Linked DNA regions of Homo sapiens. The protein of the gene in region 1 interacts with the protein of each later gene in a biochemical or structural test. Each region holds a gene or a part of one and is shown in the gene's direction. Other genes may lie near its edges.

Evidence for each region. Proteins that work in one complex are often made in the same cells at the same time.
Region 2: the proteins of CAST (region 1) and CAPN1 are reported together in a solved structure, tested with the Homo sapiens proteins (one study listed by BioGRID).

What each region holds. Positions count from the first base shown.
Region 1 is NC_000005.10:96,665,243-96,668,991, forward strand, and holds part of CAST (calpastatin), read left to right. Parts: intron 1-3,749.
Region 2 is NC_000011.10:65,179,734-65,183,482, forward strand, and holds the start of CAPN1 (calpain-1 catalytic subunit), read left to right. Parts: upstream 1-2,194; 5' UTR 2,195-2,280; intron 2,281-2,718; exon of another isoform or gene 2,719-2,808; intron 2,809-2,967; 5' UTR 2,968-2,968; coding exon 2,969-3,235; intron 3,236-3,394; coding exon 3,395-3,464; intron 3,465-3,740; coding exon 3,741-3,749. UniProt on the Homo sapiens protein: Calcium-regulated non-lysosomal thiol-protease which catalyzes limited proteolysis of substrates involved in cytoskeletal remodeling and signal transduction. Proteolytically cleaves CTBP1 at 'Asn-375', 'Gly-387' and 'His-409'.

The sequences.
Region 1 (3,749 bases):
ACTTTAACAACAACATCACAACAAAAAGCAGGTGAAATTTGTGCTAATTGATATATTTTACTTAACCTACTATATCCCACATATTATTATTTCATCATGTAATCAGTGTATAAGCCATTGAGATATTTTACATTCTTTTTTATACTAATTCTTCAAAATCCAATGTATATTTACATTAACAGCACATCTCAATTCACACTTGCCACATTTCAAGAGTGTTCAGTAGCCACAAGCAGCTAGGGGCTATAGTAATGGACAGTATAGCGCTAGACCATGGACTCCTAAACTTTCTTTTTTTCCTTTGGTGATAGGTGGGTGGTCACAGACAATTTTGAGAATCAAATGGGATTTATGGACTGCTTTCCCACAACAAAATACATACAAACATACACAAAATGCAGTTTCCAATATAGCTTCAGGGAGTTCAGAGATTTCCAAAAGACCACCCATAAATCCCCCAAAGGTCCATGGAGCCAGTTTATAACACACACACACACACATACACACACACACACACATATACATACACACATACAAACATATACAATCCAATATACATATATGTGCATATTTATATATAATACACACATGCATGTATAATACATATGTAGACATCTAGATTTATGTGTGTATGTATCTACAGATATAAATACAGATGTCTGTCTGTATGTACACATGCATGTATAATACATATATAGACAGATTTATATGCATATATATCTACAGATATAAACACAGATATCGGTATATACACAGACATCTCAGAATACTTCAGGTAAATCCTATAATTAAAATATCTTTGTGGAATCCTTTAAGTACTGAAAAGGTTATAAATGATCTAACTTTCAAAATTTAGGCAGAATAAAATGAAATAATTAAAAGACATGTCTCAGATGTGTTCGTTTAACAGCATGCCACCTATAAAGCTAGTCAGTGAAACGTTGCAATGTATATTTCCACATTGAATGCCATCAATCCTATTGACTTTATCTTCTGAAAAATGTGGTTGTAGTAAACACACACACACACACACACACCACACAACTCTGCAGAGCTAAATTTGAAGAACATCTATGAGCTATGTAATGATCAAGCATGAACGAAGGTTAATTTGGCCCACACCAGTCATCACATTCCTGAATCATCAGTTGATTCTATTAGACTATGTTAATTAAAGGTGTTTCTTAGCCTAATTAGATCCATAGACCTAGTGACAGCATGATCAAGGAGCCCAGTCATTTGGGAGGCCCCATCATTGCTGCCAGCCTGGGAAGAATGTTGCAAGCCTTCCATGGCAGGACAGATCACTTGCTCACAGTGAATTTTAGAACTAAGGAAGGCAAATAACAGGGCCTGCAAAAAGGGCATAGACTTTAGGGTAATGGAAACATAGAGGTCAAATACAGCCTTTCTCTTTCAGCTGACAGTCTTTGAATTAGTTCGCGCCCCATTGTGTATAAGCCTTTTAAACCAAGAGTAGCATCTGATAATATCTTTCTTTAAATCAGTTTTGGCACTTCCCAGAAGGTTAATTATATTCTACAGGTGCCTTTTAAAGAATGCTATAGCCTTCTGGGGGTGGGAACAGTGGGGGGTCATGTGAGATTCCATGTGGATAGGTGGGTAATTAGTTCTGACTAGATTGTCTCAGCAGATACAAAACTACTCTAAGTAGTACATCATTTTTCCCCCTTGAGGTATTTTTAAGATGAAAATCATATTAACAGATACTAAAGTTCTGTTCTTTGAGTTGTCTCATTTTCCTTTCATGAAAACATACCCAGAAAGCTTTACAGCCACCATAAAGGCGGGGGGCAGGGGGAAGTATATCAGATGTCTTCCAGTTAAGAAAAATGCAAGAACAGTTCCATCCAATAAACACTGTTCATGTAAGTTATCTCCTCAGATGGAAAAGTCAGTTAACTCAGGAAGAAAAAGGTCTAAAGTTATAGTTTCCTAAAAATGTATGAAATTTGTTTTGGTTGTAGGAAACTCATAGAACATAAGAATAAATTTGGTAAAGCTCAAAGATGTTCACAGTTGTTTATTGTCCACCTGCTGTGTGTCAGTTTTGTGCAGAGTGCGGTGGACACAAAAAAATCGTGCAGTGGTCTGTGCCTGGCCTCCTCTTGCATTTCTCATAGATAAAACTACAAGTTCATTCTCATGACAACTGCTGTGGCAACAAAGCAACTATTTAAATTCTCATGATACCCCCTTTGACTTAAGAAAAACTCATCCAGCCTTACTTCAGGTGAATCCCAGGAGCTAATCTATGACAGGCAATAGATGCCACCTCTGAAAATTGGACACAAAGGGCCTGTACCTTTACAGTGTCATCTTGTCATGTCCACTGAAATCTTAAAATGTTAGAAAAAACGAACACTTGGGGTTCAGTGAAAACAGAGGGATTTCAGAATTACAGCTATGCAGTTAATCCTTAATATATATTAAGCATTAGTACACAGAATAAGAGAAGAGTATAATGAGGCTGGGTGCGGTTGGCTCACGCCTGTAATCCCAGCACTTTGGGAGGCTGAGGCGGATGGATCACAAGGTCAGGAGTTCAAGACCAGCCTGGCCAAGATGGTGAAACCCCATCTCTACTAAAAATACAAAAAAATTAGCTGGGCGTGGTGGCAGGCGCCTGTAATTCCAGCTACTCAGGAGGCTGAGGCAGGAGAATGGCGTGAACCCGCGAGGCGGAGCTTGCAGTAAGCCGAGATTGCACCACTGCACTCCAGCCCGGGCGACAGAGCAAGACTCCGTCTCAATAAATAAATGAATAAATAAATAAATAAGTATAATGACCTCTTCATATACCAATCATTGGTGTCAATAATTGTCAACATTGTCCTAATCTTGTTTTATCTGTTAACCGTCACAGCTACCAGCACAGACACGCGTGCACACACACACACACACACACACCCTTTCAACATGTTTTAAAGCATGGGAATTGCAAATATAAGTCATCCTTGTAACCAAATTGCTGTAGTTTGTTGGGAAAATGAATTCTTTAACCCCCATGTAGTTTATCTCCTTGAGTGTTATACGAAGATGTGAGAATAATATATAATACACAGTCATGAGATAGACAAAGTACTAAACAAAAACTTAATCAGATGAACCTGATAAGGTTCCTTTGTACTTTAGGGAAAGTAAAATACTAAATTCTTCTGTTCTAATGTTTACAGCCTTAGAAAATGAAACCCTCAAACCTTAACTCACTGGCTTCTAATTCACCACAGTCAGATTGCCAGGGAAAAAGAAGGGAGTGAAATAATTTTAATTGTGTTCTTAAAATGAACAAGGCAATGAACCAGGTGCCTCACTAATGTCAACTCTTTTCATAAATTTGCCAGCCCCTGGGATAGATACCATTAGCCCTATTTTACAAAAAGAAACTGAAAAATTAAATTATCTGCCCAAGGTCACGGTCATATAGCCTTACAAATCTAGGCTGTTTCTGCCCTATCAGAGTTTATTGCAGTCAACTAACAGACAGAAATGACTCTGAGTATTTAAAACAAAGGGAGTGTAACATAGGGAATTGGTTACCCAGGTAAAAAAAAAAAAGGCTGGGAAGCCGTCAGGGGAGGGTGAGGCAACCCAGAGATTAGAAATTGCAGGAAGCTGCTACCATCCCTAGTCTAGAGGGACACAGGGAGGACAAGGGTCACCTTGCAGAAGCTGGAACCACAGCCAACCCATCCTGCAGGAGGTGCTACTGGAGGAGGGGGTGGGGC
Region 2 (3,749 bases), on another chromosome or scaffold:
AGGCTGAGGCAGGAGAATTGCTTGAACCCAGGAGGTGGAGGTTGCAGTGAGCCAGGATCGCGCCACTGCATTCCAACCTGGGTGATGGAGCGGGACTCCATCTCAAAAACAAAAACAAACACCAGAAAACAAACAAATGTTTTGTCCATTTTTATTGGATTTTTATTCAATTGTAAAAGTTCTTTATACAAGTCCTACATCAGATAGAATTTTTACAAATATTCGTCCTAGTCTATGGCTTATCTTTTCATTTTTAATAGTTTCGTGCATTTTGAGAAACAAAAGCGTTTTATTTTGATGAAGTTCAATTTATTGATTTCTTCTATCATTTACACTTTTTGTGTCATATTTAAGAAATCTGGCCAGGTGCCAAAGCTCACACCTGTAATCCCAGCACTTTGGGAGGCTCAGGCAGGAGGACTGCTTGAGCCCAGGAGTTCATGACCAGCCTGAGTAACACAGCAGGACCCCATTTCTACAAAAAATTTAAAAATTAGCTGTGTGTCGTGGCACGTGCCTGTAGTCTCAGCTACTCAGGAGGCTGAGGTGAGAGGATCTCTTGAGCCCAGGAGTTTAAAGTTACAGTGAGCTGTGATCAGGGCACTGCACTCCTGCCTGGTCAATGAAAGCAAGACCCTGCCTTTAGAAAAGAAAAAAGAAATCTTTTCAAACCCAATATTGTTAAGATTGTCTCCATTTTTAAAAAAAAAAGTTTTATGGTTTGGCCATTTATATTTAGGTGTGTAATCCAGTTTGAGTTAAATTTTGATGGTGTATCCTAAATAGTTATCAAATCCATCTACTTCTGCCTGCCACCTCTCTAGTTTAAACCACCCTTCTCTGTCCCTGGACACCTGCGCAGAAAGCCTAGGAGCTGGTTCCACCCATCACTCACCAGGTTAGGTATTTCAGGCAAGTCACACCCTCTCAGGCCTCAGTTTTCCTCTTTTGTTAACTGAGGGTGAAAGTGGGGTTAGATTAGATCAGCGGCTCTTAACTTTTGAGGGGTCGTGGGCCCTAGAGTCCTGGGAACGCTATGCAGTTTCCTCAGCAAAATGCTTGCATCCACAACATGCAAGACTGCAGCAGCTGCTGGGCTGGGGCTGCGAGACCAGCGAAAAGCCCTGACTTGGGGGGGTCTCGGGAGTCTCTGCAGTCTCCCCACCCACACCCCCGGCCTCCGCGCCGAATCCTGGCCCCCCAACTTCTTGCAGCCCGTGAAGCAGGATCTCAGGGTCCTGGGGGTGGGGAGAGGGGGCTGCCGTCCTGCTCGCAGCCTCTGCCGCCCTCTCCTGGGTAAGGTGACACATGGGCGCTTCCAGGTGGGTGGGCTGAGAGCCTGGGGGAGAGAACAGGGATGTCCACCTCTCTAAGTTTCCAGGTTCAAGAAACCCCAGAACGTTAGAGAAAGATGGGCTCCCACAATTGCCCAACCCCATCCCATAGGATGCACGCATGCGGAAAGTCGGGCCGAACGGGGCAGGGACTTACCCAAGGTCACGCAGCGAGCCCGGTCCCCCTGCGTTCCCCGGGGAGCGCTGAGCCGGGACGCGGCGGTGGGGTGGGGAAGGGGAGTGGCGCGGCCCTGCGGGGTGAGGCTGCCGTTTGCTGAGTGTCCGGCAGGGGTCTGCTCGCTGCCAGCCCGGCCCCTCCTCAGAGCAGCTGCCGCAGCCCGAGGTAATCTCGGCCCCGCGCCGGGGCTGGCTGGGAACGGCGGGAGCAGCTGCGGTCGCGCGGAGCGAGGGGAGCTGGGGACCGGGCGGGCCCGGGGCTGCGGGAGGCGGCGCCGCCGCACAATCGCCCCGGAATGCCCGCCAGGGCGCGCGTGGGGTGCGGCCGTCCGGCCCTGCAACTCGAGCTGCTGCCCCTGGTTAAAAATACCCCCTGCCCGGCCCTCCCCCTCCGTTCCCCGCGGTGCCCTTCCGCCGCGCCCCAGCCCCCCCATCCCCCCCCGCGCTGGCCCCTCCCCGGGGACTGCTCTGCCTTTTACTAATTTGTCCTCTCGCGGAATTGGCCCCCGGCCTGCGGAGGGAGGGGCGGGGAGACACCGTGAGTAAGAGATAGTCAGAGACCGTGCCGGAGAGATAAGGGAGAGCCGAGAGGAAGCGGGGTAGGAGCCCCAGGAGGAGGAGGAGGAGAAGGAGAGAGGGAGGGCGGAGGGCGGAGGGGCGGCGGGAGGAGGGCGGGGAGGAGCGCTCTTCCTGGTTGGGCCCTGCCCTGAGCTGCCACCGGGAAGCCAGCCTCAGGGACTGCAGCGACCCCCAAACACCCCTCCCCCAGGTAAGAAGCTGGGTAGCCGAGCCGGGATTCCTTGACCCTGGCCACTGCTCCTGGGCTGAGGGGCTGCCCCAGCACGGTCCCTTCTCGGGGGCCTCTGCGTTCCTGGAGCAGGGGTGGGGGCTGGCGGAGCGGCACAGCCCAGGCGCCTGTCCCAGCCTGGCTCACCGCTGTCCCCAGGGGCTGGGCTAGGGCCCACCAGCTCTGATATCGAGCCTGCTGCGGGGGCCTGAGGAGGGGGACCCCGACCGTCTGGGGTTTTCAGCCCACGGCAAGGGGCCGGTGCACCAGGAGCTTGGTTAGTTTGGGGAGGGGGTTGCAGGCCTGTGAACAGGATCAAAGAGGCCTTCCCTGCTGTGTCCCACCTGCCCAGTTCCTTGTGCTGTCTGGAGGCTCCGCCCTGCCCCACCTGACCTGCTGGCTCACTACAGAGCTGCAAGCCCCTGACAATGGGATCCGGGAAAGGAGAGGTGGCCGGCACGCCTGGGAACTGGGAAATCCCTTTCCTGGATTCACTGGGAGCACCGGGAGGTGGCTGAGAACCCTACTTCTGTGAGGGGAGCAGTGAGGCAGGGAAACCCTAGGTTTGGGGATGGATAAGCAGGGGCAGGAGAGCAGAGCTTGCAGGCAGGAGCCCAGGTTCTAGTCTTGGGAAGGCCTGGGTTCTGAGCAGGCCCATCTGTCCGGCAGGATGTCGGAGGAGATCATCACGCCGGTGTACTGCACTGGGGTGTCAGCCCAAGTGCAGAAGCAGCGGGCCAGGGAGCTGGGCCTGGGCCGCCATGAGAATGCCATCAAGTACCTGGGCCAGGATTATGAGCAGCTGCGGGTGCGATGCCTGCAGAGTGGGACCCTCTTCCGTGATGAGGCCTTCCCCCCGGTACCCCAGAGCCTGGGTTACAAGGACCTGGGTCCCAATTCCTCCAAGACCTATGGCATCAAGTGGAAGCGTCCCACGGTGAGAGGGGCCATCCTGGGTGGGACTCGGCTAAGCCAGATCCTGGATGAGGAGTAGGGATGGGACTCCATGTCCCTGGTGGGGAATGGGGTCTGGGGTGGCCTGGTGCCAATTTCTGGGAGGGGCTGGCCGAGGAACAGGACTCTGGGTCTCTCGTAGGAACTGCTGTCAAACCCCCAGTTCATTGTGGATGGAGCTACCCGCACAGACATCTGCCAGGGAGCACTGGGTAGGCCCCCAGGGCGTCGGGTCCCGGGTATTTTTTCCACAGTAGTTCCCCATTCCCGCTCCTTCAGGCTCTGCCCCAACCCCTCCCTCTTGCAAGCCCAGGCAGGATCTGGCTATCAGCGCTGGGGCTGGTTTGCCCAGATTCCTGGGTCTTTTCTGCAAGCTGAGGGGAGTTAAGTGGCACCCTGGCCAAGGAACCCCAGATTCTCCCTAGCACCCGCTTCCCCCCCCGGGGCAGGTTGGTAGAGCAGGCTAATGTGCATCCCTCCTGCCCCAGGGGACTGCT